3 separate regions of the Homo sapiens genome follow, and all the other regions are linked to region 1. The links come from fine-mapping of genetic effects on plasma protein levels. A gene starts in region 1. Each other region holds a variant in brackets. All regions are shown on one strand. Distances are from middle to middle.

Region 1 (10,626 bases):
TTCTTGGGGTGAATAAGTGCAGTACTTATTATTATGATTGTTATTTTTAAATTTCTGCCTCGCTTTCAGGACCCCTCTCTTTGCTGAGAGTTTTCCTTTTGTTTAATAAATCCTGTTCTATTCTACTCACTCTCCACTGTCTGTGTGCCTTATTCTTCTTGGTCGTAGAGCAAGAACTCGGACCTAGCTGCACTAAGGACTAAGCAAACTACAAAGGAAGCAAGAGATTGGAGTGATTCAAGGAAGAAGCCACGAGCCAAGGAATGCAGGTGGCCACTAGGAGCTGAAAAATGCAAGGGAACCGATGATCCCCTCAGAGCCTCTGAAGGAGCCACCCCTGCCCATACCTTGACTTTAGCCCAGTGAAACTGGTTTTGAATTTCTGACCTTTAGATCTGTAAGATAATGAACTTGTGTTGTTTTAAGCACTGAGTTTTTGGCAGTTTGTTACAGCAGTGGGAAACTAATACAATCCTCTGCTTGCATAATCGGTCCCTTAGGCATGAGGGGAGGGTGACGACTCATTATGCATTTGATCAGGAAGGGTGGATTTGACCTGCTTATTGACCAGGGAAGGGTGGAGCTGAAAGGCATACAAACCTGCCATGCAGATGTAAACTAGGGGTGGAGCATACTGAAGAGATATAAGCAAGACTCTGGCCTACTAGGGGTGGAGCACACTGAAGAGATATAAGCAAGACTCATGGATAATAACCAAGATGGAGTCACTCTGGCCAATCCCAGGCATATACAGATGCAACACTCCTAGTAGGGAATTTTACCCTCCCATTTGAGCAAAGCCCACGGAAGACTTCCCGGCTTCTGCCACATAAAAGACACAGAACACAGAACTCTACTTCTACAAGAAGTAGAAGGTAGAGCCAGCAAGAGATACAAACAGAACATCCAATTCTCGTGGCAGGAGGATGGTGAGTTTGCACAGAGAAGGGGCACAGGATGATGGCAGGCTGAGCTGTAAATATTTTTAGGTATTTGGTTCCTATTTTGCTTATACCTAAATTAATGATAGAAAAGAGGATTTCCACTAGGGTTTTGGGCTGATTGCTTTTGGATGTGGGTTACTGGTACCCAGTGGGGAAGAGGATAGAGACACAGGAGGAGATGCCTGTTGGGAGACAACCCTACCCAACAGGTGCTGAATTCCAGGAGGATGTGTGAGGCTGGAGATACTCTCTAAGACTGGGGAACTCATCACCAGGAGGCTAGTGAGAGAAAGCAAGGGCCCCCCCGTGGAGTTGGACCTGACTGTAGCTGGATATTTTGCGAGTGGGTTAGTTTACACAATGACTTGTCAATGCTCCATTTATATGGATATAGCTGAAAGTCAGAAAGGAAATAGAAATCTGTGAGTTTAGCATCAAAATGCCGAAGGCATTTCAGAGTGTGTGTATTTTAGGTAGAGGACAGTCTCTGGGCTGTTGGCTTAGCTCTATCCATTCTTCTTGGACATGTAATTTTAAGAAGTGTGGTCATCTGGTTTCTGCCAAACAGATGAGGAAGCCAGGAGATGAGAACAGACAGACAACCCTAAGAGGCAAGAGCTGGAAGCCCATGTTAGAAATGCTAATAGTGGGCCAGGCGCGGTGGCTCACACCTGTAATCTCAGCACTTTGGGAGGCCAAGGCAGGCGGATCACCTCAGGTCAGGAATTCAAGACCAGCCTGACCAACATGGTGAAACCCCGTCTCTACTAAAAATACAAAAATTAGCCAGGCATGGTGGTGGGCGCCTGTAATCCCAGCTACTTGGGAGGCTGAGGCCGGAGAGTCACTTGAACCCGGGTGGTGGAGGTTGCAGTGAGCCGAGATCACGCCATTGCACTCCAGCCTGGGCAACAAGAGTGAAGCTTCATCTCAAAAAAAAAAAAAAAAAAAAGAAAAGAAAAAAAGAAAGAAATGCTAACAATGAAAAAACAATGAAAAACAAAATCAATACACACACAATGGTACCTCCAGCTGCTCCTGCCGCTCAGCCCTTCCCAAGAACTTCCCAATCTCCCTACAATCCACCAATCCAGGGTTAACTCCTGGCAGAGCAGGGAGCTTTCAGACTTTCCTCCACACCAAGTCTGGCTTCTGTCCTGATTGGTTATGTCCCAGCCTTATGGATACCCCTGAGCATAAACGTGCATTGCTTTAGTAATCAATTAAGCTAGCTAACTTTCCTCTCTCAGTATCTGGTAAAAGAAATCCAAAAACTACAGTTAGGGGTCATTTCTTTCCTTTCTTTCTTTTTTTTTTTGAGACGATGGAGTCTCCCTCTTGAGCCTCCCGAGTAGCTGGGATCACAGGCACATGCCACCATGCCTGGCTACTTTTGTATTTTCAGAAGAGACGGGGTTTCACCATGTTGGCCAAGCTGGGCTCGAACTCCTGACCTCAGGTGATCCATCCCCCTTGGCCTCCCAAAGTGCTGGGATTATAGGTGTGAGCCACTGTGCCTGGCCAGGGGTCGTTTCTTGCAGGGAGAATTATATATATATGTTATATGTTATAGGCCCAGCAGACATCAATATATTACAATGCAGGAGAATAATTGATGTTCATATTAGTGGGACTCAGTCATTAAGAAAAGTTTAATAAAATTCAGCTTTATCTTTTTAAAACTGTACCGTACATTTTAGAGGTTTTAAACATCTTGGTGCTTACATAGGATTGAGCCTGTAACCATCTAGAACTTACTTGTTCAGAGTGACTCATTCTTCAGGATGAGCTCACACTCCTGCATGAAACAGAACAATAGCCTTTCTGTGTTACTTACACCCAAATAAGCATATTCTTGTGTAGGCAGACTCTTTCTTTTTTGTTTGTTTTTTGTTTGTTTTTGTTGTTGTTTTTGAGACAGAGTCTCGTTCTGTTGCCCAGGCTGGAGTGCAGTGGCGTGATCTCAGTTCGCTGCAACCTCTGCCTCCTGGGTTCAAGTGATTCTCATGGCTCGGCCTCCCAAGTAGCTGGAATTACAGGCACGCACCACTATGCCTGGCTAATTTTTGTATTTTTAGTAGAGACGGGGTTTCACCATGTTGCCCAGGCTGGTCTTGAACTCCTGACATCAGGTGATCCACCCACCTCGGCCTCCCCAAGTGCTGGGATTACAGGTGTGAGCCACCGTGCCTGGCCTGCCAGACTCATTCTTTTATGCTGGTCCTGTGCAGCCTGGGCTAACGGTGCCTCCCTAGTCATTTGGTTCATGATCTGTCCCTGCTCACCTGGGCTGATGGTGCCTTCTTGCCCACCTGGGCTGGCCATGCCTCCCTGCCTCCTTCTTTTTCCTTGCCTCAGTGGGCCTTGTCGGGGGGGCAGTGGTAGAAGCAAGGAAGAACAAAGGCTCCTTTCTCCCTTTGACCTGATGTTGTAATAATGATAAACTTGTCAACTCATCTCCGACAGCCAATCCAACCATAGACCCTAGAAAAATAGGAGTTTAGAATTAAAAAAACAACCTTGATCAGCCAAGGATATGGTTGGATGAAGGCAGAAGGAAGCTCATAGCATAGAGAGACACACTAAAAATAAAAGCAACAAAAACAGAGCACACATAGGGCACGCACCTGTTGTCCCAGCTACTTGGAGGGGATGAGGCGGAAGGGGGTGCTGAGGCGGGAGGATCACCTGAGCACTGGGAGGCTGCAGTGAGCCATGATTGCACCACTGCACTCCAGCCTGGGCAACAGAGTGAGACCCTGTCTCAAAAAAGAAACCAAAAACCAAAAACAACAACAACAAAAACCCACTGCCACCACCACCAACAAAAGCAAACCCAAACAAACAATGTGCCTCCCAAATCCAAGAAGAAGACTCATGTTCAAAGGTGACGGAAAATTTCAGGTTTGAAGTAGACAAGGAGTCAGAAAATAGGCAACACTACTGACCACACCTGATTCTGGGTCCAGTATGTCCTTGGCAGTGTGCTGTACAGCGGAGGGAGGGGACCCTCTCTCTAGAAATATGCCCTCGTTGGCAGATGGCCTTGCTTCTCCAAGAGGCCATCATCTGATCTGACCCCCGTATTGCCTTAATTACTCACTTTCACACCAATTCTCAACACCAGCCAGGTCAACAGGTTGCTGGCCAGTCCAGGCTCTTGCCTGAGCGAAAGGCAAAACCAGGGCAAAGCTTCAGATGTGATGGGTGGATACGCTGCACAGCAGTTCTGCAGAGGGGCTGCTGGCATCACAGCTTCACAGACGCAGTATGTGCACTGTATTTTAAGGAGCTGTGTGAGGCAAGGAACGCCCCAGAGCTCTCCTGGGAAGCCCCAAATGCTCACCGCAGGGCAGTGAGACCCGTGGGGCTGGGAGCTGCCAGGAGTGGTGGGCCCTCTGCATTTCACTGTGCTCTCCCGCAAGCACTCCTCTCTCTGACTCTCCAGGGCCCCTCTTTGGGCAGTCTTCCCCTCCCCCTTGGCCCAGGCTTTCTCTGAGCTCCTTCCTGCTCCAGTTCCCCTCGCCTGGGCTCATCCAGTCCTCCCAGGCTTCCGTGACAGCCTGACATTTTAGTCTCTGCCTGCCTGCAGCTCCCTGATTCTTTCTGGGTCTCCCAATTCAGATTCCCAAGAAAAAATTCAGATGACTGAGTTTGTGTTTTCCTGCCAGTTTGATGTCAGGGGTCCTGCCTGGGCTTGTAAAGGGTCTTGGTCTCCTCAGCAGAGGTGGGGCCTTGTGATTTACAAGGTGGCCCTTTCCGCAGGGCTGGGAGTCAGCAGGTGGGCGTCACTGGTTTAGCAAGGACAGAAGAGTAGGTTTCTCATTTTTGCAAAGAAATGGTCCATAAGCTGGAGATTGAAGCATTTTTCCTCCAGTTCCCTCACTAACCAGCTGGGTGGCAATGATAAATCACTTCCTTTTCCTATAAAATGAGGGGTCTGAATAGATGCTAATGCCATTTGCTACACACCAGGCACTGCTCCAACTACTGCAGGCACATTTATTGCCGAATCCCCACAAAGGAGGTGCTATCACTAACTCCTTTTAAAGAAAGGAGGCGGCCAGGTGCGGCGGCTCACGCCTGTAATCCCAGCACTTTGGGAGCACGAGGCGGGAGAATCGCTTGAGTCCAGGAGTTTGAGGCCAGCCTAAGCAACATGGTGAAAACCTGTATCTACAAAAAGTACAAAAATTAGCAGGGCGTAGTGGCATGCGACTGTGGTCCCAGCTACTTGGGAAGCTGAGGCAGGAGGATTGCTTGAGTCCAAGAGAAGTGAGCTGAAATCGTATCATTGCACTCCAGCCTGGTGACAGAGAGAGACCCTGTCTCAAAAAAGAAAGAAAGAGAGAAAGAGAGAAAGAAAAGAAAGAGAGAAAGGAAGAAAGAAAGAGAAAAAAGAAAAGGAAGGAAAGCTGAGGCACAGAGCGCTGAGTTGCCCATGGTCACACAGTTAGCAGGTGGCACAGATCCTGTCTAGTTTCAGAATCCTTGTCCTTGAACATGCTTTGCTCTCTCTCTGAGATTCTTTCAGCTCTTGAGCTTTAGAAATGGAAGTTTCCAGCAAGTTCTTTGCAGCAGCTGATGTTCCCTATTAAATGACAGTGGGGAGTCTTAGAAGTATTCGGGAGGCCTACGTTCACCGCTAACATCCTTGTTGTGAAGGCCTGCTGACGTTTGCCATTCCAGGACCAAGTGGACAATGAGTTAAGCTAGGCCAGGAGGGGGTTCAGCTCCCCATAACAAGGCAGGGGTGGCCCTTTGTGTCCGGCAGCATGGTAGCCCCCCCGCAGGAGCTCCGGCTACCCTTTGTGTTTGACCTTGTGGAAGGGCATGGGAAATGCTGGCCTGTCAGCAGGCATAAACTCAAAAGTTTCTCCTTCAGCTAATTTCAGGGACTGTCTAGCCAAGTGAATACACAGGATTAGGTAATCCATGGATCCTGCGAGGGCAATTGGCTGATTGGCTTAGGTGTGCCCAAGAGCCCTGCAGGTGTCAGAACAAATCCATGTAGAAATGCAGACGCCCACACCAGCTTGAATGGCATAAAGGCACACATTGGAATGTGGCTCATGAGCTGGGACCCAGGATCAACCACTGGTTTAAGGAGAGGACCGTGAAATGTCCAAACATGGAGGCCAGGCCACCTCCCTGGATGCCTGGCTGAGGGCAGCCACATGTCTGCAGCGGTGGCTTGTGTCCATGACTGAGATGGGCAGGGTTTGCAGGCAGTGGTGATCCCATCAGCAGTCCCCAGATCTCTAATGTCAGGAGAAAGAGCATGGGAAGTCCGACGTCCAGGAAAGTCTTTCATCCTGCTTCTCCCTGCCTTGGGCCTTTTCCCATTTCCGCGGTCACCTGTCCACAATGGCTGCACTGTGTGGCTCTTCAGGTGTTCCTAAGACACTGAACAACCAAACCCATGGACTGACCGGATATGAAATTGACGTGGGAGGAGATCAGGCAGGTGCTGGGGCTGCCTGGCGCAATGCACGGAGCCAGAAGTGCTGTTATGGGGAGGGTGTTATTGTTTTAGTGGGTGCAGCAAAGGGTGGTTTAGCCAGCTGGGCAGATCAATTGTAAATTGTTATTTACAGTTTCTGAGCCTTTAAAAGAAGAGCTTCGCCGGAATCAGTCTTCATTACAGATGTGCAGCACCATGAGGGCCCTGGTGCTTCTGCTGTCCCTGTTCCTGCTGGGTGGCCAGGCCCAGCATGTGTCTGACTGGACCTACTCAGGTGAGCCCCTAGCTTCTGCATGCTCCCCCAGTTACCCTCACACCCTTACAACAGGACAAGTGCCCTTCTTCTTCTTCTTTTTTTTTTTTTTAGACAAAGTCTTGCTCTGTTGCCCAGGCTTGAGTACAGTAGTGTGATGTTGGCTCACTGCAACCTCCGCCTCCCGGGTTCAAGTGATTCTGCTGCCTTAGCCTCCCGAGTACCTGGGATTACAGGTGCCTGCCACCATGCCTGGCTAATTTTTGTATTTTTAGTAGAGACAGGGTTTCACCATGTTGTCCAGGCTGGTCTCGAACTCCTGACCTTAGGTGATCTGCCCATCTCCCAAAGTGCTGGGATTACAGGCATGAGCCATTGCGCCCGGCCAAGAGTCCTCCTTTAGGGCATTTCACAGGATGGCCAGGCAGCCCACTTGCCATATGTTGGGGGTCTGCTCATTGTGGCTTCAGATGTTACCTTTTCAGTGTCTCAGAAGGTATGGAGAATAAGCTGAACTTAAACTTCAAATAAGGAAAAGAAGGAAATAGCTTTCCCCTTCACAAACTCCTGATTTACTTACAGGCTTTTTGCTTTAAATTTTTTTCCATCCACAGTGTTGGCTGGTTCAAAAGCACACTCACTGCTTCTATTTGTAAAACCATTTGCTTTGTTGGTCCGTGTAAGTGGAAAACAAAGTTCTTAGAAAAGACTCTCGGTAACCTCACGGAAGGTGCTGTGGGGTTTGCGAGACCTTCTTTCTTGGAAATTTCATGGTAGGCAGTTTACCCAGAACATCTTGACATAAGGACCCAGTTCCCTTTGATCTGTGGGCTGCCAAAATGAGAGGTGTTTTTTTTTTTGTTTTTTTTTTTTTTTTGAGACAGAGTCTTGCTCTGTTGCCCAGGCTGGAGTTCAGTGGTGCCATCTCGGCTTACTGCAACCTCTGCCTCCTGGTTTCAAGCGATTCTCATGTCTTAGCCTCCCAAGTAGCTGGGATTACAGGCACTCATCACCATGCCTGGCTAACTTTTGTATTTTTAGTGGAGATGGGGTTTTACCACGTTGGCCAGGCTGTTCTCAAACTTCTGACCTCAAGTGATCCGCCCACCTTAGCCTCCCAAAGTGCTGGGATTACAGGCGTGAGCCACCGCGCCAGGCCCCAAACCAGACTTTTAAAATGTGAAATGTAAAATCCTGGCATTCAACATGGGTTCTGGTCCACATGTGAGCCAAAGCTAGAAGGCCGTGTCTGTGGACTTTGTGGACACTAAACAGCCCTTTCCAGGGGCAGTGAGGAGAGCTTCTTCCCGCATCCCCCTTCTTTCCATACGGGACCATGGATTGGGGCCCATGAGGAGGCTGGTGGCCGCTGGCTGATGCAGGAAGTGAGACAAACATCTGCTTCCTGCAGAGTCTGCCCCAGTTCAGCTGCTCCGGAAGCATTCCTTCAGGGTGAACGGGATGATCTGTTAAGTCAAGGGCAACGGAATTAGGGACATCCTGGGAGGTTCAGAAAGTCCAGCCAGCTCTGAACAACCGCTCTGTTCCTGAGGACAGTGATCTTACACATGGCAGTGCCTCGGAAGCCTGGGGCATTCTGCTTCACTTGGCCAAGCAGTGCAGGCAGGTGGTTCAGAGGTGAAGGAAGAGAGAATTCAGACAATGAAGTCCTTGTCCTTCCCAGGCTCTGCCCAGCCTCTGAGACAGTGGGCTTCCTGGGAAACTACTAGGGGCTCCAGGAGAACTTGAGAGTAGCTTTTGTAAATGCCTTCCAGGGAAACCTGAGAGATGTTCCAGTATTGACAGTGCCCTGGGCCAAAGCATCTTGCTCTGAGAAGGCGTTGTGCTCCAGGCCAATTGCCTTGATTACAAACCAAAAAGCGGTGAGGGCCCTAGTACAGACACCTTTTTTTTTTTTTTTGAGAGTTTCACTCTCGTTGCCCAGGCTGGAGTGCAGTGGCGCGATCTCGGCTCACCGCAACCTCTGCCTCCTGGGTTCAAGTGATTCTCCTGCCTTAGCCTCTCAAGTAGCTGGGATTAACGGCATGTGCCACCATGCCCGGCTGATTGTTTTTTATTTTTAGTAGAGATGGAGTTTCTCCAGGTTTGTCAGGGTGGGTCTCGAGCTCCCAACCTTAGGTGATCCACCCGCCTCGGCCTCCCAAAGTGTTGGGATTACAGGCATGAGCCACCGTGCCCAGCCACAAACACCTGTCTTAAAACAAGCTGTGTACTCACCACACAGCTACCCCCGAACAGGGAACAGAGGTGGGATTCTCCATGTCACATGGCTGACTCCAAGCTCCACAGCTGTATGGGAGCCAAGTCACCATGATAATCACTCACCTATGTTACTCTGTCCCCTACGATTATCAACCCTCTCTGAAAAGATAAACTTTCTCCTTATGAATTTTAAAAAAGTACTCATTCTAGGTTGTCCTGGAACCTGATGCTTCCTTAGTTTCCCTGAATCCATAAGTGTAGACACCTAGATGGTCTTTACCATACGGGAATCCATAAAAGGGGCTGGAGCAAGAAAATAGTGGTGGGGGGTTCCTGCAGCATGGGGAGGTGGGGGCTGTGTTCCTGTTGGGGGCATGGAAGGACAACTGGGCCCTTGGGAGGAAATGAGGAAGAGGCCCCAGGAGCAGCACAGGAAGAGCAAAGCCAAGGATCCCTCCATGCATTCACCAGCTGGAAATAAGTCAAACGAGAGCAAAAATTTACGTATAAAACACTCTCAGGCCGGGCACGGTGGCTCACGCCTGTAATCCCAGCACTTTGGGAGGCCAAGGTGGGTGGATCACCTGAGGTCAGGAGTTAGAGATCAGCCTGGCCAACATGGTGAAACCCCGTCTCTACTAAAAATACAAAAATTAGCCAGGCGTGGTGGTGCATGCCTGTAATCCCAGCTACTCCGGAGGCTGATGCCGGATAATCTCTTGAATCTGGGAGGCAGAGGTTGCAGTGAGCCAAGATTGCACCACTGCACTCCAACCTGGGTGACACAGCGAGACCCTGTCTCAAAAAAAAAAAAAAAAGACTTCCATTGATTTCAAAACACTGTCTTGCTCCCAGGGCCAGCAGTTGCCACAGGAAAGTTAGAGGTTAGCACCAAAGCCCCCCAAACACCAGAGTCCTTGGAGTTGACCTCGTTGTCTTTTTGGCCTCCTTCTGGGGGACCTGCTTCTGCTTTCTGGAAGGTGCCTCCGTGGGTCCCCGCCCAGCAGGCCCTGGCCTCTGGCCTCTGGCCTGGTGAGGTTCCTCCAGAGTGGGCGCAGCCAGGCAGCCCCTTGAACTGTGTCTTTCCTGTCTTAGAAGGGGCACTGGACGAAGCGCACTGGCCACAGCACTACCCCGCCTGTGGGGGCCAGAGACAGTCGCCTATCAACCTACAGAGGACGAAGGTGCGGTACAACCCCTCCTTGAAGGGGCTCAATATGACAGGCTATGAGACCCAGGCAGGGGAGTTCCCCATGGTCAACAATGGCCACACAGGTAAGAGGAAGGGGTGGTGAGGGGCTCCAGTCCATGGGCAGCCTGCAGGGGAAGGCAGGTTACACGTGTCCCTGCCAGGAATGGCTTGCACAGAGACACAGAGCACGGCCTCAGAGCTGGAGGCCTCGAACATGAGGGTCGAACATGAGGGCTGACTGGCCCCGAAACCTAGTGGCTCTTCCAGAGAGGGCAGCATCCATCTTTCGACTCAACTCCCTGCTGGTCCCTTCCTGCAGCGTTATCCTCTTACCCGAGCTCACCCAACCCACCCAGCAGGTGACAGGCAGGACAGGCCGTGCTGCTGAAGCCACCCTTCCCACGGGGGCTTTCTGTCCATCACCTTGGGTCAGCTTTTCCACATTTCCTATATTGAGTCTATTCAGCTCAAAGCACCTGACAGGTAGGACCAGGGTTTCTCAGAGTTTTAAGAAGAAAGCTCTGGCTTTCTGATCCCTACAAGAAAGAAG
Region 2 (10,626 bases), 13 kb after region 1:
TTGGCCTGGCTGGTCTCGAACTCCTGACCTCAAGTGATCCGCCCACCTTGGCCTCCCAAAGTGTTGAGATTATATGCATAAGCCACCGTGCCCAGCCTGATATAAAGTATTTTGAAAGATTTTTATAATTTAGCTTTTGAAGTTATTTGGCTATTGCCATTGGCTACTTTTCAGCAAGCTCCAAGCACATTCAGGAATTCTACTGAAGGGGGAAAAAAAGCTAATCTACAAACTTTGAATCTAATGAGATTTTGATGAACACTAAGCTTAACAGTAAAGTTGACATGACGTATTAAAGATTTGTTAATTTTTGGTTTTGCAAGGTTCTTTTATTTGAGACGAAGTCGTGCCCTGTAGCCCAGGCTGGAGTGCGGTGGCGCGATCTCGGCTCACTGCAACCTCCGCCTCCCGGGTTCAATCAATTCTCCTGCCTCAGCCTCCTCAGTAGCTGGGATTACAGGCATGTGCCACCACGCCTGGCTAATTTTTGTATTTCTAGTACAGACAGGGTGTCACCATGTTGGCCAGGCTGGTCTCAAACTCCTGACCTCAAGTCATCCGCCCACTTCGGCCTCCCAAAGTGCTGGGATTACAGGCATGAGCCACCATGCCCAGTCAGGTTTTGAAAGGTTTCTAATCACATGTATCGAGCAATCATTTCAGTGTCATGAAAATCCTGTGTTCCACCTGTTCATCTTTCCCTTCCTTCCTAAACCCTGGCAATCACTGATCTTTTTATTTGACCTATAGTTTTTCCTCTTCCAAAATGTCATATGGTTGGAATCACACAGCATGTAGCCTTTTCACATTGGCTTCTTTCACTTAGCAATATGCATTTAAGTTTCCTCCATGTCTTTTCATGGCTTGATAGCTCATTTCTTTTCAGTGCTGAATATTCTATTGCCTGGATGAACCAGTTTATCCATTCACCTATCCAAAGACATCCGGGCTGCTTCTCAGTTTTGGCAGTTATGAATAAAGCTGTTATAAAACCCATATGCAGGCCAGGCATGGTGGCTCATGCCTGTAACCCCAGCACTTTGGGAGGCCAAGGTGGGAGGATCACTTGAACCCAGGAATTTGAGACCAGCCTGGGCAATGTAGTGAGACCTACGAAAGTAATAAAAAAATTAGCCTGGCATGGTGGCTCAAACATACAGTCCTGGCTACATAGGAGGTTGAGGTGCGAGGCTCACTTGAGCAGCTTGGGAGGTCAAGGCTGCAGTGAGCTATGATTGCACCACTGCACTCCAGCCTGGGTGACAGAGCAAGACCTTCTCTCAATCAATCAATCAATCAGTCAATCAATCAATCAATCAATTCCATGTGTAGGTTTGTGTGTTTTCAGTCCATGTGGGTAATTACCAAGAGCTTGCTTGATCGTATAGTAATGTCAGAGGCGTTTGAACCAGAGTGACCCCATCTTGAATAGGGGGTGGGTAAGATAAGGTTGAGACCTACTGGACTGCACTCCCAGGAGGTTAAGGCATTCTCAGTCACAGGATGAGATAGGAGGTTGGCACAAGATACAGGTCATAAAGCTTGCTGATAAAACAGGTTGCAGTAAAGAAGCCTGACAAATCCTACCAAAATCAAGATGGCCACGAGAGTGACCTCCAGTTGTCCTCACTGCTACAGTCCCACTAGTGCTATGACAGTTTACATATGACATGGCAACGTCAGGAAGTTACCCTATGTGGTCTAAAAAGGGGAGGCATGAATAATACACCCCTTGTTTAGCATATAATTAAGACATAACCATAAAAACGGGCAACCAGCTGCCCTTGGGGCTGCTCTGCCTGTGGAGCAGCCATTCTTTATTCCACTACTTCCGTTTTTTTTTTTTTTTGGAGACAGAATCTTGCTCTGAGGCTGGAGTGCAGTGGTGCTACCTTGGCTCCCTGCAACCTCTGCCTCCTGGTTCAAGTGATTCTCGTGCCTCAGCCTCCCAAGTAGCTGGGTTTACAGGCATGCACCACCATGCTCCATTAAGTTTTATAATTTTAGTAAAGACGGGGTTTCGCCATGTCGGCCAGGCTGGTCTTGAACTCCTGACCTCAAGTGATCTGCCTGCTTCGGCCTCCCAAAGTGCTGGGATTACAGGTGTGAGGCACTGCGCCTGGCCTATTCCTTTATTTTCTTAATAAACTTGCTTTCACTTTATTCTGTGGACTCACCCCAAATTCTTTCTTGTGTGAGATCCAAGAACCCTCTCTTGGGGTCTGGATTGGGACCGGTTTTTGGTAACATATAGACCAAGTTGGAAATAATTGACATTGAGATAGTATTAAGTCTTCCTATCTGTGAACATGGAATATTTCTCCACTTATTTAGTTCTTCCTGATTTATTTCATTAGTTTTGTGATTTTCCTTATATAGATTTTGTCCATATTTTTGGGTTATTTTTGTATTTTTAGTAGAGACGAGGTTTCGCCATGTTGGCTAGGTTGGTCTTGAACCCCTGACCTCAGGTGATCTGCCTGCCTTGGCCTCCTAAATTGCTAGGATTACAGGTGTGAGCTGCCGGGCCTGGCCTCCTCATTTTAAAATTAAATTTAAATTAGATTCAACATTTCAATAAAGAGAAATTCAAATTGAAACACAGGCTGTTGAAACAAAGACAAGTTGCTACAAAATTTCTAAAATGAACTCCCAATTTCTCTGTTTTGGTGCAGACTAGTAACAGTTGGTGGGCCGGCACTGATCCATTAATATATATTGCCCAGGTGCCGGCACTGATCCATTAATATATATTGCCCAGGTGCCGTGGCTCACCTATAATCCCAGCACTTTGAGAGGCCAAGGCAGGTGGATTGCTTGAGCCCAGGAGTTTCAGACCAGCCTGGGCAACATGGTGAAATTCTGTCTCTACAAATAAACTTAAAAATTAGCTGGACATGGTGGTGTGTGCCTGTAGTCCCTGCTACTTGAGGGGCTGAGGCAGGAGGATTGTTTGAGCCTGGGAGGTCGAGGCTGCAGTGAGCTGAGGTCATGCCACTGCACTCCAGGCTGGGTGACAGAGTAAGACCCTGCCTCAATTAAAATCTTTTTTAAAAAGCACAGTAACAGGCTCAGGGTTGTGGCTCTTTTCCAATTGGGCCTGTGTGGGCCTGTCAGTGTAACCAGAAGTAACACATTCCGTCTCCCGGGAGCTGTGTTTTGGGGAAATTGTGAGGACCTCTCTCATTTCTCCTGTGGTGCTTACTGTCCATTTAGGGAGCTCTGCTCGGGTCCTCAGCTCCTCGGCTCCCGTCTGCTTTCAGCATCACTGACCTTGCACGCCTCCTTTTAAGGCCCTTCCACGCCTCCTTTTAAGGCCCTTCCGTCCTTTTCTTGCAAGCATTGATTTTTGAGGCCAGCTACATCTCAAGCTCTAAATACAGAGCATTTGTTCTGCCAAACAGCCGGTGAAAACCTTTCAGGCCGGATTACTGCATTATAGCACATTACGTTATGAATTTAATCATAGCTCCCCGCTCCTTTAGACAATTTGGAAAGAAAGAGGGGGCACGTGACAGGTTTTAAATACCTCATATTTGCTATCTTTTAAGAAAATGTTCTTGTTTACAGCCACCATTGATGACTTTAAATAGGAAGATCTTGCCAGGCGCAGTGGCTCGCGCCTATAATCCCAGCACTCTGGGAGGCTGAGGAGGTTGGATCACTTGAGGTCAGGAGTTCGAGACCAGCCTGGCCAATATGGTGAAACCCTGTCTCTACTAAAAATACAAAAATTAGCCGGGCATGGTGGCATATGCCTGTAATCCCAGCTACTGGGGAGGCTGAGGCAGGAGAATTGCTTGAACCCAGGAGGCGGAGGTTGCAGTGAGCCTAGATCATGCCACTGCACTCCAGCCTGGGTGACAGAGTAAGACTCTGTCTCAAAATAAATAAATAGGAAGATCTTGCTCATGAGACACATGCTGCCTTTCCAACGCCGAAATTATATCCTCATAGATATTTTTCTTAGTCACTTTTCTTAGTAACTGAGCCCGTTTTTTTCTTTTTGTGTAGTTCATTCCAAAAGGCAGAGATTTCAGCTGGGCGTGGTGGCTCATGCCTGTAATCCCAACACTTTGGGAGGCTGAGGCAGGTGGATCACTTGAGGTCAGGAGTTCGAGACCAGCGTAACCAATATGGTGAAACACTGTCTCTACTAAAAACACAAAAATTAGCCAGGCATGGTGGCGGGCACCTGTAGTTCCAGCTACTCGGGAGGCTGAGGTGATAGGATCCCTTGAAGCCAGGAGTTGGAGGCTGCAGTGAGTTGCTGCAGCAAGTCATCGTGGTGCCACTGCACTCCAGCCTGAGCAACAGAGTGAGCATGAAAAAAAACAAAGAAAAGAAAACAGTTCTAAGAGGCCCCACTTCCTATTCTTATACCTTCGGCAAATTCCAAACTTGGCCAGAGATAGAGAGTAGAATTCTAGTTTCCAAGCCCATTGGCCATAATTTTTCAGGACCTTCCCTTTCCCTGGGGCCAGCAAGCTGGACCTGCCACTGTGTGGTCCTGCCTCTGGCCTGTTGGTTCTGGGCGGGAAGGAGCGTGCTGGGGAGAGGCACTTGCCCAGCCTGGTTTACTTAGTGCCTGGCCTCCATCCTGACCTCACCCTGTGCCCTGTGCGCAAACGCCTCTTCTCCTTTGGTGACCCTGCCCATGGCATTCTAAGCCAGTCTATGGTATTGGCTTGCCCTGGGCTCAGACAGGTGGGAGGTGAGCAGAGAAGCTACCCAGCCTGTAGGCCTGACCCCTCTGTGTTCACCTACTCTGCTCTCAGCCCCACCTTGTCTCTCCAGTGCAGATC[A/G]GCCTGCCCTCCACCATGCGCATGACAGTGGCTGACGGCACTGTATACATAGCCCAGCAGATGCACTTTCACTGGGGAGGTGCGTCCTCGGAGATCAGCGGCTCTGAGCACACCGTGGACGGGATCAGACATGTGATCGAGGTACCTGAGGACCCCCACTGTGTCCTCTTTCCTTTGAACCCCATAGTCACTTTTCTTTTTATTTATTTATTTTGAGACAGAGTCTCGCTCTGTTGCCCCGGCTGGAGTGCAGTGGCACAATCTCAGCTCACTGCAACCTCCGCCTTCTGGGTTCAAGCAATTCTCCTGCCTTAGTCTCCCGAGTAAATGGGATTACAGGCACCCGCCACCATGCCCTACTAAGTTTTGTATTTTTAGTAGAGACGGGATTTCACCATTTTGGCCAGGCTGGTCTCGAACTCTTGACTTCAGGTGATCCACCCGCCTTGGCCTCCCAAAGTGCTGGGATTATAGGCGTGAGCCACAGTGCCCAGCCGTCACTTTTCTTATTAAAATAGCCAAGGCCAGGTGCACTGGCTCACGCCTGTAATTCCATCACTTTGGGAGGCCAAGGCAGGGGAATTGCTTGAGCCCAGGAGTTGTAGATCAGCCTGGGCAATGTAGCGAGATCTTGTGTCTACAAAAAAAAAAAAAAAAAAAAAAATTAGCCAGGAGTGGTGGTACACGCCTATAGTTCCAGCTTCTGAGGAGGCTGAGGTGGGAGGATCGCTTGAGGCCAGCAGGCTGAGGCTGCAGTAAGTCCTGATCATGCCGCTGCACTCCAGTCTGAGCAACAAAACAAACAAACAAAAACAGCCAAAAGACTGTGCGATGGTAGCAGTTAAGTCATGCTGAAGTTGAGTTTATTTTTTATTCACTCAGCAACTATTGACAGATCACCACTTTGTGACAGGGGTTCAGGCAAGGTCCTGCCCTCACAGGACTCAGGTTGGCAGGACTTCACAGCCCACAGGGTGTGGCAAGCCCTCCTTTGTTTCAGCTGGATTTCTATGTGTTAGATTTTCTTTTTTTTTGTTTCTTGAGACAGAGTTTTGCTCTTTTGCCCAGGCTGGAGTGAAGTGGCATGATCTTGGCTCACTGCAACCTCCGTTCCCTGGGTTCAAATGATTCTCCTGCCTCACCCACCCGAGAAGCTGGGATTACAGGCACCTGCCACCATGGCCGGCTAATTTTTGTACTTTTAGTAGAGACGGGGTTTCGCCATGTTGGTCAGGCTGGTCTCAAACTCCTGACCTCAAGTGATCCACCCGCCTCGGCCTCCCAAAGTGCTGGGATTACAGGCATGAGCCACTGTGCCTGGACTGTGTTAGATTTTCTGAGTTACCTCTTTTGCCAGAATCCATCCATAGGATGACTACATGTTAACAATGGTTGCCTGGGACAAGGGGCGCAAGCTCACTCTCCCTGCAAAGCCCCCAGACACTCCAGGAGAACCCACTGTCCTCATGTGATCCCTTCAGACTCTGCCAGCTTGTCTGCCTGGAGGGAGGTGTGGTCGGGAAATGGCCTCGAACTGCCATCTTCCAGAATCCCACTCTTGCTCTTTCCATTCTTGGGGAAGTTTCTGCTCTTGATAGATAGGAATTGCAGCCCAGATGGAGAGAGATGGAGGTCCAAGTTGCTTGTGTGGAACAGTCTGAGGCCTCAGACGGAGCACCTTTCTTTCTCTTCCTCCTTCCCTGGAAATCTTAAGCATTTGAATTTCTATGAACTGCCCTTGACCCACTCTACCTTGCTCTTACAGATTCACATTGTTCACTACAATTCTAAATACAAGAGCTATGATATAGCCCAAGATGCGCCGGATGGTTTGGCTGTACTGGCAGCCTTCGTTGAGGTAAGCAGAAACTACCCATGTGTGTCTGTATTTGAAGTTATAGGTTGATGTCCAAACAAGGTGTGAAGTCTAGTTGAACAGTCTTCTTTATTATCACTCTTCATCTTTTCCTGAGCTCACAGTTCTTGGAAACATTGACTCGATGGAAGATCACTGTGCTCCTTCCGTGCTGTCAATCTCCGGACCTTGGTTAACGTGGACAAGCTGACTTAAAAGAGCTGGAATCCCAGAGGGGTTGCGTAGACACAAATTGTTCGAAGGGCAAGGGGAAACCTGCAACTCAGTCAGACAAAGGCAACACCTCTGCATTTCCTTTTTTTTTTTTTTTTGAGACGAAGTTTCACTCTTGTCACCCAGGTTGGAGTGCAGTGGCACAATCTCGGCTCACTGCAATCTCCACCTCCCAGGTTCAAATGATTCTCCTGCCTCAGCCTCCCAAGTAGCTGGGATTACAGGCACCTGCCACCACGTCTGGCTAATTTTTGTATTTTTAGTAGAGACGGGTTTCACTATGTTGACCAGGCTGGTTGTGAACTCCTGACCTCAGGTGATCCCCCTACCTCAGCCTCCCAAAGTGCTGGGATTACAGGCATGAGCCACCAGGCCCAGTCAACACCTCTGCATTTCTAAGAAAGTCTAGATGGTGGGGCCGGGCGTGGTGGCTCACATCTGTAATCCTAGCACTTTGGGAGGCCAAGGTGGATGGATCACTTGGGGTCAGGAGTTCAAGACCAGGCTGACCAACATGGCAAGACCCCATCTCTACTACAAATACAAAAATTAGCTGGGCATGGTGGCAGGCGCCTGTAATTCCAGCTACTTGGGAGGCTGAGGCAGGAGAATCACTTGAACCCGGGAGGTGGAGGTTGCAGTGAGCCGAGATCGTGCTACTGCACTCCAGCGTGGGCAATAAAGCTAGATTCTATCTCAAAAAAAAAAAAAAAAAAAGCTGGGCGCGATGGCTCATGCCTGTAATCCCAGCACTTTGGGAGGCTGAGGCAGATGGATCACCTGAGGTCAGGAATTCAAGACCAGCCTGACCAACATGGGGAAACCCCATCTCTACTAAAAATACAAAAGTAGCCAGGCGTGGTGACGCACGCCTGTAATCCCAGCTACTTAGGAGGCTGAGGCAGGAGAACTACTCGAACCCAAGAGGCAGAGGCTGCAGTGAGCCAAGATAATGCCACTACACTCCAGCCTGGATGACAGAGCGAGACTCCGTCTCAAAAAAAAAAAAAAAGTCGGGCATGCAAAGAAATAGGAAAATGTAATCCATATTTAGGAGGAAAAAATAACTCAAAACAATCTATAGAAACTGACCTGAGTGGACCCAGAGTGATTAAGCAGACAGGACTTTAAAACAACTATCAATGCTGTGGCTGGGAGAAAAATTAAAAAAAAAAAACAACTATCATAAATGTTTGAAGAATGAAAGGAAACTATGTTCAAAGAATTGAAGGAAAATATGATGACAATGACTCAAAAAAGGAATCTCAATGGAGAAATAGAAACTTTAAAGATGCACCAAATGGAAAGTCTAGAGTTGAAAAGTACAATAAACAAAATGGAAAAAGAATCACTAGATGGGCCCAAAGCAGATCTGAGGCAGCAGAAGAAAAAAAGAATCAGTGCATTTGAAGATAGAGCAATGAAATTATCCAATCTGAAAAACAGAGAAAAAAGACAGAAGAAAAATGAACAGCCTTGCAGACTCATGGGGACAAAATCAAGTATAGCAACACACACACACACACACACACACACACACACACACACACACACACATATATATAATGGGAGTCCCAGAAGGAAAGGAGAGAGAGAAAGTGGAAGAAAAACATGAAACAAAACAAAACAATGGCCCAAAAGCCTCAAATCTGAGGAAAAACATAAATTTATCAATCCAAGAAACTAAAAATACCCCAAGTCTGATAAATAAACCCCAAGTCTAGATACATCAAAAATCAAACTGTTGAAAGCAGCAAGAGAAAAGGGATTTATTATATGTAGGGGAATGACAGTACAATTAATGGCTGACTTTTCAAGTCATCAGAACACAGTGGAATGACTGTCAATCAAGAATTCTATATCCAATAAACCACCCTTCAAAAATGAAGGTGAAACAACACATTCCCAGATATACGAAAACCAGTATAATTGCTAGCCGGTCTATCTTACAAGTCATATATAAGGATGCTTTTCTGGCTGAAAGAAAATAATACCAGACGGTTAACTCCGATCCACAGAAAGAAGTGAAGAGTACTGGAAATGGAGAATAGAAAAGACTACATACATATATTTTTTGTGTTTTCTTCTTTTAATTTCTTTTTAAAAACCATCAAGATTATTTAAAGCAATGACTATACCACTGACTTATAATATATGTAGATATAATGCATATGACAAAAATAGAAGGATGAGGATGAAATAGAGCTCTTTTGAAGCAAAGTTGCTATATTTTACTGAAATTAAGTTAATATTAACCTGACATAGATTGTGATTGAGTTGTATATGGTAATCATTTGAGCAACCACTAAGAAAATAACTAAAAATGATTAAATGGTAAATGAGAAGTATTTGCTTAACACAAAAGAAGGCAGTAAAGGTGGACCAATGCAACAAAAAAGGCACGAGACATCTAGAAAACAAATAGCAAATGCAGTCATAAAGCCAAGAAAGCCAAATTTATGCACAGTGAAAGAGATCAACACCACTTGACTGAAAAGAGCCATTGAAAATAGACCTTTTTCACCCAAAGCAACTTTTCTGACTGTTAAAGTCAATACTCATTCAGAAAGAGTGACCTGGTGTTGGGGGAATTGTAGTCGTTCTGCCTTGGACATCTGGCTCTCTGTCGGAAGTCCTGAGGATGAAGAAGGGAACTTGTGAGATCAAGCCCTCCTCATCACAAAGAATCTGACTGTGGCTGACACTGCCCAAAACAAGTGCACAGACCAGGTGCGGTGGCTCACGCCTGTAATCCCAGCACTTTGGGAGGCCGAGGTGGGCCGATCACCTGAGGTCAGGAGTTGGAGACCCACCTGGCCAACATGGTGAAACCCCATCTCTACTAAAAATACAAAAAAATTAGCCAGGTGTGGTGGTGGGCACCTGTAATCCCAGCTACTCGGGAGGCTGAGGCAGGAGAATTGCTTGAACCCTGGAGGCAGAGGTTGCAGTGAGCCGAGATTATGCCACTGCACTCCAGCCTGGGGAAGAGAGCAAGACTCTTAAAAAAAAAAAAAAACTCACAAACAAACAAACAAAAACAAGCGCACAGGGGACTTTTTTAGAGTAAGAGTTGGCCATTTCTGAGGGCATCACCAATGACTGACAAGCTTCTTTCCCTGGAAGCTGCCAAAATACTTCAGATAATGCCTTTCTGGAAGGACTCATGAACCTGCGTGGTTGGTAGCAAAGAACAGCCAGACTGTCTCTGCCAAAACACAAGACGGCACAGGCTGCCTCTCCTTACTCTCTAGGCTCGGCCCAATCCGCTAGAAAGCTGAGTGGCTGGATTAGTAGCGATGGTGCTGGGGCCTCTTCTTCACTTACGCTCAGTGCTCTGTGTTTCTCTGCAGGTGAAGAATTACCCTGAAAACACTTATTACAGCAACTTCATTTCTCATCTGGCCAACATCAAGTACCCAGGTAAGGGAAGCCAACTGTGGCTGCAGGAGGGAAGGGGAATGAGTGTGAGTGTGAGTGTGAGGTGGGCCCAGGGGGCAGGGGATTGATGCTGGTGGGGAGGGTGGCCCGTGGGCCCTGCCAAGGGAGTCCATCCCTCCCTGTGCCAGGTTACTTGTTCCAGTGATTTCTGCTGTTGGCTTAGGCAGCAAACCTCTCTGAGAAGCCTGTGCATAAATTCGATGTGTCATTTCCCATGATTGGAACTTCTGACTGGAGTTGCACTAAGTAGGCATATCCTTGCTTCGATGACTGTCACCTCAGCTGGCAGTG
Region 3 (9,527 bases), 32 kb after region 1:
CCTGCATCTGCCTGGGGCGCAGGCCCCAGACCCCAGCGTGCTGGAAGCAGGTGCGGGCAGGCCAGCCTCCGCTGCATCCTCCAGTTCCTTGGATCAGGCTCCAACCGTGTCCTTGGCTCACCTCGTTTCTGTGTTGGCAAGAGTGTAAATATTTCACAGCCTCCTCATCTTTATTTTGTCTGCTTTCTGTAAAGTTGTGGTGAATCCATTGTCTTTACAGCCCATTCTGTTAACCATTCCTGATACCTTTATATTTTCCAATACAGTAGAATCAGTATCCTATCAATATTGTGTACTCAATATTATCCCACTTTTTTTTTCTTTTTTGAGACAAGGTCTCAGTCTGTTGCCCAGGCTGGAGCTCAGTGGCACAATCACGGCTCACTGCAGCCTCAAACATCCAGGCTCAAGTGATCCTCCCACCTCAGCCTCCCCAGTAGCGGAGACTGCAGGCACACACCACCACACCCAGCTAATTTTTTTTGTAGTTTTTGTAGAGATGGACTCTTACTATGTTGCTCAGACTGGTCTCAAACTCCTGGCCACAAGCAATCCTCCCCCCTCAGCCTCCCAAAGTGCTGGGATTATAAGCACGAGCCACCTCGTTCGGCCTTATCCCATCTTTATATGTACCTTTTAAAACTTAAATTTCCTCCGGGTGTGGCGGCTCACGCCTGTAATCCCAGCACTTTGGGAGGCTGAGGCGGGCAGATCACGATGTCAGGAGATCGAGACCATCTTGGCTAACATGGTGAAACCCCGCCTCTACTAAATATACAAAAAATTAGCCAGGCGAGGTGGCGGGCGCCTGTAGTCCCAGCTACTGGGGAGGCTGAGACTGGGGAGGCTGAGTAGCTGGGCATGAACCCGGGAGGCGGAGCTTGCAGTGAGCCGAGATTGCGCCACTGCACTCCAGCCTGGGCGACAGAGAGAGACTCTGTTTCAAAAAACCAAAACAAACAAACAAACAAAAAAATTAAATTTCCACCTCCCCAACCCGAATAAGGCCTATTTGTGATTTTCTCCCCACCTTTCCTTCCTGGTTCACTTACTGAATTAACAGAGGATATAGGTGTTTTCTATATTGTTTCCTGAAATACAATTCACTCCTCCAATACAATACTAACAGAAGAAAAAAACTGACATCAGTTACAGTAATCATTTCCCCATATTATACCATATACAACATTAACAGCAAGAATCCCTTTGTCCGAAAGTGATGTCGTCTTTAACAGGTCCAATTGCAAGCAGGCTGACCAAAGGGAGCTTAGACTCATGGGTCTGTCTCCTAATTCTTTTGGAGTCTCTCACTCTGTCGCCCAGGCTGGAGTGCAGTGGTGCAATCTCATGGGCTCACTGCAACCTCCGCCTCCCAGATTCAAGCAATTCTCCTGCCTCAGCCTCCCAAGTAGCTGGGATTACAGGCACGCGCCCCCACGCCAGGCTAATTTTTGTATTTTTAGTAGAGATGGGATTTCACCATGTTGGTTAGGCTGGTCTTGAACTCCTGACCTCAGGTGATCCGCCTGCCCGGCCTCCCAAATTGCTGGGATTACAGGTGTGAGTCACTGTGCCCGGCCTGTCTCCTAGGTCTAAATGTTGCCATATTTCCCCTGCTTTCCCTAAAACAATTTTACGCTATTCTTGCAATAGTCACTAACAGACTGCGTATCGTTCTATTTGCCACATCTGAAATGCTTTTTCCACTACAGCGTCACTCTAGCATCTCCTCACGAGGGGGTCAGATGTTCTAGGTACCGGCCCCAGACTGAGGTATTCCATGCTGTGATTTGTCTGTAGGTCCACTAAGAATCGCTGTTTAGGATCGATTACTTCAACTCCCAGTTCAGCATCAGAGGGCTTCCTTACCCCCAGGGAACCCGAATTGTGGCCTCCCTTTGCTGATTATAGAACAGACAACTGGGCATCATCTTGGCCCACCTTCCCTCAGGCCTGGATTTTTCTTTCTCTCTCTTTCTTTCTTTCTTTCTTTCTTTCTTTCTTTCTTTCTTTCTTTCTTTCTTTCTTTCTTTCTTTCTTTCTTTCTTTTCCCTCCCTCCCTCTCTCTCTCTCTCTCTCTCTTTCTTCCTCTCTTTCTTTCTTTTTTTGACAGAGTCTTGCTCTGTTGCCCAGACTGGAGTGCAATGGCGCAATCTTGGCTCACTGCAGCCATGACCTCCAGGGCTCAAGCAGTCCTCCTACCTCGACCTCCCAAGTAGCTGGGAGTAGCATGTACCACCACACCCAGCTAATTTTTGTATTTTTTTGTAGAGACGGGCTTTGGCCATGTGGCCCAGGCTGGTCTCGAACTCCTGAGCTCAAGCAATCCACCCACTTCAGCCTCCCAAAGTGCTGGGATTACAGGCATGAGCCATCGCGCCTGGCCAGGCCCAGATTTCTATGTAGCAGTGATTGGCTGTGGTCAACCCAGCTGCGTGACTCATGGTATTTCACTGTTCTGTAGAGAACTGTATCCCAGCGGGGTTGATATGATTAACCCACCTGCAAGGAGTGAATTGAGAAACCAAGGTCAGTTACAAAAACAAGACGATGGCCAAATACGGACCTCTTGCGATTTATTTACTAGAAAACGCCTATATCCCCTCAGGCAAGGGCCACGGGGGGCATCGTGGGAGAAGCCAAAATCCAAGAGTACAGCCCACCTCAACACGCCACCCCTTGGCTCTGGGCAGCTTAGAAGCCTGAGTTCAAACACAGTGAAGATGACTAAAGGCAATGCACCGGGCACGTGGAGAGCATTCTAAGGAATCAAAAGACTTCCCAAAAATACGATGCGGGT[A/G]TGGTGTCTGGCCGTCCCCCTTCTCTGTTTTTGTGAGGACTGTACAAGGTTTAACCATTTCCGACTAACTCTTCTTTTTACAGAATACACTCTAGGCTCTGAATTCCAGTTTTACCTACATAAGATTGAGGAAATTCTTGACTACTTAAGAAGAGCATTGAACTGAGGAAAGCTAAGAGGAAGATTCAATATTAACTAGCTTGAAGCCTGACCTAGCCAGAAGTGCCTGTCCGCTGCAGCCGCACCCTACCTTGTCTAAGAAACCATGTGTGTCTGGAACACGCTGCTCCCCCTGGGGCAGCTGTTGGGATTCTGATTAAAAGAGGGGAAACGATCATCCTGGACAGGAAGTGAGATGGCTTCAGTTCATGAGACGGGATCTGAGTTAGACATCACCAGTGGAAATTGATTGGAATAGAAACTTAAAGGAAATGGAACCCTAACTATTCTCCCATCAAATCATATATGTTGACCTGTCTGAATTATAAACCAGCCTGACCTTTCCTTTAGCATTAGATGTAATAAAATAACTTTGGAAATTTGTCATTTAAAAATTTCTTTCCTATTCCTTTGTATTACTTCAAATATCCCTTCTTTGTTCTGCCCGCCCCCGACTCCTCCCCCCACTCCTCCCCCTACTCCCCCACAACCGCACATAGGTGAAGGGATAGAGATCAAAGTGGGAGGGATTTCCAAGACTAAGATTAATAAAAAGGAAGGAGGTGTTTTTTGTTGTTGTTGCTTATTTTTTTGAGATGGAGTCTCACTCTGTTGCCAGGCTGGAGTGCAGTGGCACAATCTTGGCTCACTGCAACCTCCACCTCTTGGGTTCAAGCAATTCTCCTGCCTCAGCCTCCCTGAGTAGCTGGGACTACAGTTGCGCACCACCATGCCCAGCTAATTTTTTGTATTTTTAGTAGAGACGGGGTTTCACCATGTTGCTCAGGATGGTCTCGATCTCTTGACCTTATGATCCGCCCGCCTCGGCCTCCCAAAGTGCTGGGATTACAGGCGTGAGCCACCGCGCCTGGCCTTTTCTTTTCCTTTGAGACAGAGCCTCGCTTTGTTGCTCAGGCTGGAATCCAGTGGTATAATTTTACTGCAACCTCTGCCTTCTGGGTTCAAGCAATTATTCTGCCTCAGCCTCCCAAGTAGTTGGGATTACAGGTGTGCACCACCACGCCCAGCTAATTTTTGTATTTTTAGTAGAGATGGGGTTTTGCCATGTTGGCCAGGCTGGTCTCAAACTCCTGATCTCAGGTGATCCTCCTGCCTCGGCCTCCCAAAGTGTTGGGATTACGGGCGTGAGCCACCACCCCTGGCCTAGGAAGAGATTCTTACACTGAGAATTTGTCAGTGGGGAAGTTTGGAGCAGTGGCTGTGAGTCAAAGAAAAAACAGGAGACGAGAAAGAAGAAGGGCTCCCAGGACAGAAGGAAAGAAGAGAGGGGACCTCACTGCAAACCCCCTTGTTGGTCAAATGGTGCCTGGTCCTTGTTACCAGACCCAGATTCAGGCATCCCATTAGTTATGTGGGATGATAACATGACCTCACAGGGCTCATAGGGCTGTGGCTTCATTAAATAACACTGAGAAGTACCCAGAAGAGTGACCCATATTTTTTTTATCATTAAATAACACTGAGAAGTACCCAGAAGAGTGACCCATATTTTTTATTTTTATTTTTATGTTTTTTGAGACAGGATCTTGCTCTGTGGCCTAGGCTGGAGTGCAGTGGTGATCCTAGCTTCATGGCAGCCTCAACCTCCTGGGCTCAAGTGATCTTCCTACCTTTGGTCTCCCAAGGTGCTGGAATTATAGGCATGAGCCACCACACCTGGCTGCTACCAATTTTCTTGGTCACTTATGCATTCCCTTCATCGATGCCCCTTCCTTCCCATGCCTTAGCTTCCTCCTCACTTCTGATTGAGCTCACCCTGGCTCTTCTGAATTCCTTCTGCTCTTGTTACCTCTGTTGTTTTTCCATGTCATTATTTGTCATATCCTAAGCACTTCCACCACACGTGACTGCCCTCAGCCCCGAAGGCCACCTTCAGTGAACTTGCATTATCCCCAGTTTACAGAAAGCAAACCAAGACGTCGACTTGCCCAAGATCTCCTAGGTGGCAGATGAAAAGCCAGGATTTGAACCCAAGTCTTTTGTATCCACATTCTTTTAACCATAGGAAGCCTCCCTTTCATTTTCTCAACAAGCTTTCTTATGCACTTGCTCTGAGCCTGACATAACACTAGGTGCTGGGGGTTCAGGGATGGGTGAGAACAGCTCCCACACTCCTACAGCTCGGGTCTGGTGAGCAGAGTGGACACTAAAATAAGTAATCGCCATATCGCCCCATGGTGGAGGGAGCGCCTGTGTTTAAAATCCAAGTGCTTGGCCTGGGTTTTGAAGGCTGAGAAAGAGTTCACCTGGGAAACCAAGTCAGAGAGGGGCGGGGGTATTGTAACCCGAGAGTGTGGCATGTGCTGATGGGAAGACACCTGGGGAAGTGGAAGCAATTTGGCGTGGTCAGAGGACCAAGTTCAAGGATGCTGGCACGGAAAGCGGGGGTGTGGCCAGGGCAGGTCAGGCCGTCACTGGTATCTTCTGTGCCACTAAAGGGTTTCGGATTTTACCCTGTAGGTGACGGCAGCGACTGCAGGGTTTCCACAGGGGAACGACACGGTGCGATTCATTCTTTCCACCAGATATGTGTGTCTATAATGAATGAGAGACGCAACAGTGGGCGGTACGGCCAAAGAGCTTACTTACATTCCTGTGGGAAGGCAGACAAGGAAATGAAGATGGAGATGGGATTACACTTGCCTGTCCTCAGGGATCCAGCCCTCCCACCCCTGAAAGTCTATCCTTAAGAGAGGCTTGTGGCCGGGCGCGGTGGCTCACGCCTGTAATCCCAGCACTTTGGGAGGCCGAGGTGGGTGGATCATCAGGTCAGAAGATCGAGGCCATCCTGGCCAACATGGTGAAACCCCATCTCTACTAAAAATACAAAAAAATTAGCTGGGTGTGGCGTGCATCTGTAATCCCAGCTACTCGGGAGACTGAGGCAGGAGAATCGCTTGAACCCAGGAGGCGGAGGTTGCAGTGAGCTGAGATCGTGCCACTGCACTCCAGCCTGGCGACAGAGCAAGACTCCATCTCAAAAAAGAAAGAAAGAAAGAAAGAAAGAAAGAAAGAAAGAAAGAAAGAAAGAAAGAAAGAAAGAAAGAAAGAAACTTGCAAAAAAGCCATTCATGCTGACCTTTTTAACAGCAAAATACAGGAAAAAACACAAACGTCCATCAGTTGGGGATTGGTTGACTAAACCAGGGCTATTCACACAACAGAGAACTGCATAGGGAATAATCTCTAGGCTACATTTGTTTCTTTTTTTTGAGATGGAGTCTCTGTCACCCAGGCTGGAGTGCAGTGGTACGATCTCAGCTCACTGCAACCTCTGCCTCCCAGGCTCGAGTGATTCTTCTGTCTCAGCCTCCTGAGTAGCTGGGATTACAGGTGCATGCCACTAACGCCCTGGCTAATTTTTGTAATTTTAGTAGAGATGGGTTTTGCCATGTCGGCCAGGCTGATCTCGAACTCCTGACCTCAGATCATCTGCCCGCTTTGGCCTCCCAAAGTGCTGGGATTACAGGCATGAGCCACTGCGCTTGGCCTGTAGGCTATGTTTTTAAGCCTGAAAAAAGCAATTTTACAGATGGCACAAGAAGAATTAGAAATATGAATATAGTTAAGTATTTGTTTATGTTTTGAAGCACAAACAGGGAAAAAGAAACCAAAAATAAATTAAAATGGTTTCCTAGGCTAGGCGCGGTGGCTCACGCCTGTAATCCCAGCACTTTGGGAGGCCGAGGGGGGCGGATCACGAGGTCAGGAGATCAAGACCATCCTGGCTAACACAGTGAAACCCCGTCTCTACTAAAAATACAAAAAATTAGGCGGGCGTAGTGGCGGGCATCTGTAGTCCCAGCTACTAGGGAGGCTGAGGCAGGAGAATGGCATGAACCCGGGAGGCGGAGCTTGCAGTGAGCCGAGATCGCGCCACTGCACTCCAGCCTGGGCGAAAGAGCAAGTCTCTGTCTCAAAAAAAAAAAAAAAAAAAAAAAAAAAAAAAAAAAAAACAACAACAACAAAAAAAGGTTTCCTAAAAAGAGAAGGCAGGGGAAGGGTGCTGAGGGTGGCGTGGGAAGGTGGAGTTTTCTGGATGTGCCCTGTTTGGTAGTTTTGACTTTGGAACATCAGGCTTTATGTAATTGCAAAGTAAAATTAAGTAAGTAAGGAAAAAAGCATTCCTGAAACATAAAACGCGAGTTACGTTTCAACATAAAAATATAGCAGAACAATTGAACAATTATACATAGGGCCGGTGGCATGAACACTGAAGGATTTTTTCATGTTATTTTAGACACGGTATTTTTCATCTACATACCTGCTGCAGTATATCCTAAGGACAAGAAGAAGTACCAAGGAATCTTAAACAGTACTTAGGAATCCTCTTAAAAATTATATTGGTATTGTTATTTTGAAATTGTGTGTGTGTGCAATTACTATCCTCTACTACTATATGTGCACAAATAATTATGTTAATGTCCTCACTAACAAGATTTTCAGCATAAAAAACAGAGATCCAAATTGAAAAATTAGGCTGGGCTTCATGGCTGACACCTTTAATCACAGCACTTTGGGAGGCTGAGGTGGGAGGATCACTGGAGCCCAGGAGTTCAAGACCAGCCTAGGTAACACCGCAAGACCTCATCTCTACAAAAAATAAAATTTAGCCAGGCATGGTGGTCCATGCCTGTGGTCCCAGCTACTCAGGAGGCTGAGGTGGGAGGATTGCTTGAGCCAGGGAGGTGAAGGCTGCCGTGAGCCGTGGTTGTATCACTGCACTCTAGCCTGGGTGACAAAGCAAGACCCTGTCTCAAAAAAAAAAAAAAAAATTAACAAAGCTAGATAAAAACTCTGTAATCATAAATTTAGAAATATCAATATAAATTTATAAATTCTTTTTTTTTTTTTTTTAGGGACAGGATCTTGTTATGTTGCCCAGGCTGGAGTGCAGTGGCTATTCACAGGCATGATCCCATTACCGATCAGCACAGGAGTTTTGACCTGATCCATTTCTGACCTGGGCTGATTCACCCCTCCTTAGGCAACCTGGTTGTCCCCTGCTCCAGGGAGGTCACCATACTGATGTCAGACTTAGTGTGGACACCTGATTGGCACAGTGCACTGCAGCCCAGAACTCCTAGGCTTAAGCTATCCTCCTGCCTCAGCCTTCCAGCTACCTGGGACTACAGGCACGCACCACTGCACTTGGCAATAAATTCTTTTTCTCTTTCTAAAAACATGTATTTCCTAGGTCTGTTCACTGAAACGTCTTACCAACAAAAACAACCTACAAGCAATTAACACCTTATAACCAGATAATGGCTCCCCTTTTTTTTTTTTGAGATGGACTTTTGCTCTGTTGCCCAGGCTGGAGTGCAGTGGCACGATCTCAGCTCACTGCAATCTCCACCTCTTGGGTTCAAGTGATTTCTCCTGCCTCACCCTTCCAAGTAGCTGGGGTCACAGGCGCGCGCCACCACACCCGGCTAATTTTTGTATTTTTAGTATAGACGGGGTTTCACCATGTTGGTAAGGCTGGTCTTGAACTCCTGACCTCAAATCATCCACCTGCCTCGGCCTCCCAAAGTGCTGGGATTGCAGGCGTAAGCCACTGTGCCCGGCCCAGATAGTGGCTTCTAAATATCATTTTTCACTATGAGGAATCAGGGAACCTTGGAGAAATGACTGATTCCAGATGCGGAACAAGAATATAGAAGATGGGCTGGGCACAGTGGCTCACTCCTGTAATCCCAGCACTTTGGGAGGCAGGGTTGGGAGGATCATTTAAGGCCAGGAGTTTGAGATCAGCCTGTGCAACAGAGCAAGACTCCTGTCTATTAAAAAAAAAAAAAGAATATTTAAGAAGAACCTGGGATATCTTTTTAGGCCAGAAAACAAGAAATTTAACTAAGTACTGGATTTATGTCAAAAAGACACTGGGGCCATCTTGAAGGGGCTCCTGGGTCAACTTAAGCATTCAAAAGAACAATATCATAAAAAGAATCATAACTGCAATGGATTGAAAATTGAAACACTGAATATATAGAAATATATGAGTTCATTATGGTCCTAAAAATAAGTGAAAGAAAACGCACTGGTCTTCTTTGGAGGTTGCTAGGGAAACCATTTATTTTTCTGTAAATTGGCAAATAGAAAGAAAGGGTCAAATATATGTCCCGCCTTCCCTGTGCACACTGCAGCTGAGAGATCCTATGGTTGGTTGCATCAGTTTCCTGAGGCTGCTGTAATAAATAACCACAAACGACATGGTTTAAAATATCAGAAATTTATTTTCTCACAGTTCTGGACACCAGAAATTTGAGATCAGGGTGTTGGCAGGACCAAGCTGCCCTCAAAGATGCTGGGGGGCTTCTTCCTTGCCTCTTCCAGCTTCCAGCGGTCACGGGCATTCCTTGGCTTGTGGCTGCATCACTCCGTCTCTGCTTCCATCCTCACATGGTCTTCCCTTTTTCTCTGTGTCTTTGTCCGTCTGCTTTTCTCTTATAAGGTCATTTGTCATTGGACTTAAGGTCCATTTGAATAATCCAGAACTTCATCTCAAAATTCTTTACTTGATTATATCTGCAAAGATCCTTTTCTT

What was found. PIP is the posterior inclusion probability: the model's chance that the variant is causal. Sun 2018 read protein levels with aptamers (SomaScan).
Region 2: its variant is fine-mapped to the plasma level of the CA6 protein (Sun 2018, PIP 0.95). The variant lies in the coding sequence of CA6. If it changes the protein, the assay may bind it differently, which can mimic a change of level.
Region 3: its variant is fine-mapped to the plasma level of the CA6 protein (Sun 2018, PIP 0.95).

What each region holds. Positions count from the first base shown.
Region 1 is chr1:8,939,284-8,949,909 of GRCh38, forward strand. It overlaps CA6 (carbonic anhydrase 6), which reads left to right and starts at 6,585. Exons shown (of 8, transcript NM_001215.4): 1 at 6,585-6,682; 2 at 9,980-10,159. The coding sequence starts at 6,604.
Region 2 is chr1:8,952,340-8,962,965 of GRCh38, forward strand. It overlaps CA6 (carbonic anhydrase 6), which reads left to right. Exons shown (of 8, transcript NM_001215.4): 3 at 4,798-4,946; 4 at 6,571-6,663; 5 at 10,248-10,317. Among named protein-coding and RNA genes, the nearest start is that of CA6, 12 kb to the left of the region's middle. The variant A/G (reference allele first, on the strand shown) is at 4,806.
Region 3 is chr1:8,971,739-8,981,265 of GRCh38, forward strand. CA6 (carbonic anhydrase 6) reads left to right here. Exons shown (of 8, transcript NM_001215.4): 8 at 2,884-3,354. The coding sequence ends at 2,966. It also overlaps the pseudogene RN7SL451P. Among named protein-coding and RNA genes, the nearest start is that of CA6, 31 kb to the left of the region's middle. The variant A/G (reference allele first, on the strand shown) is at 2,801.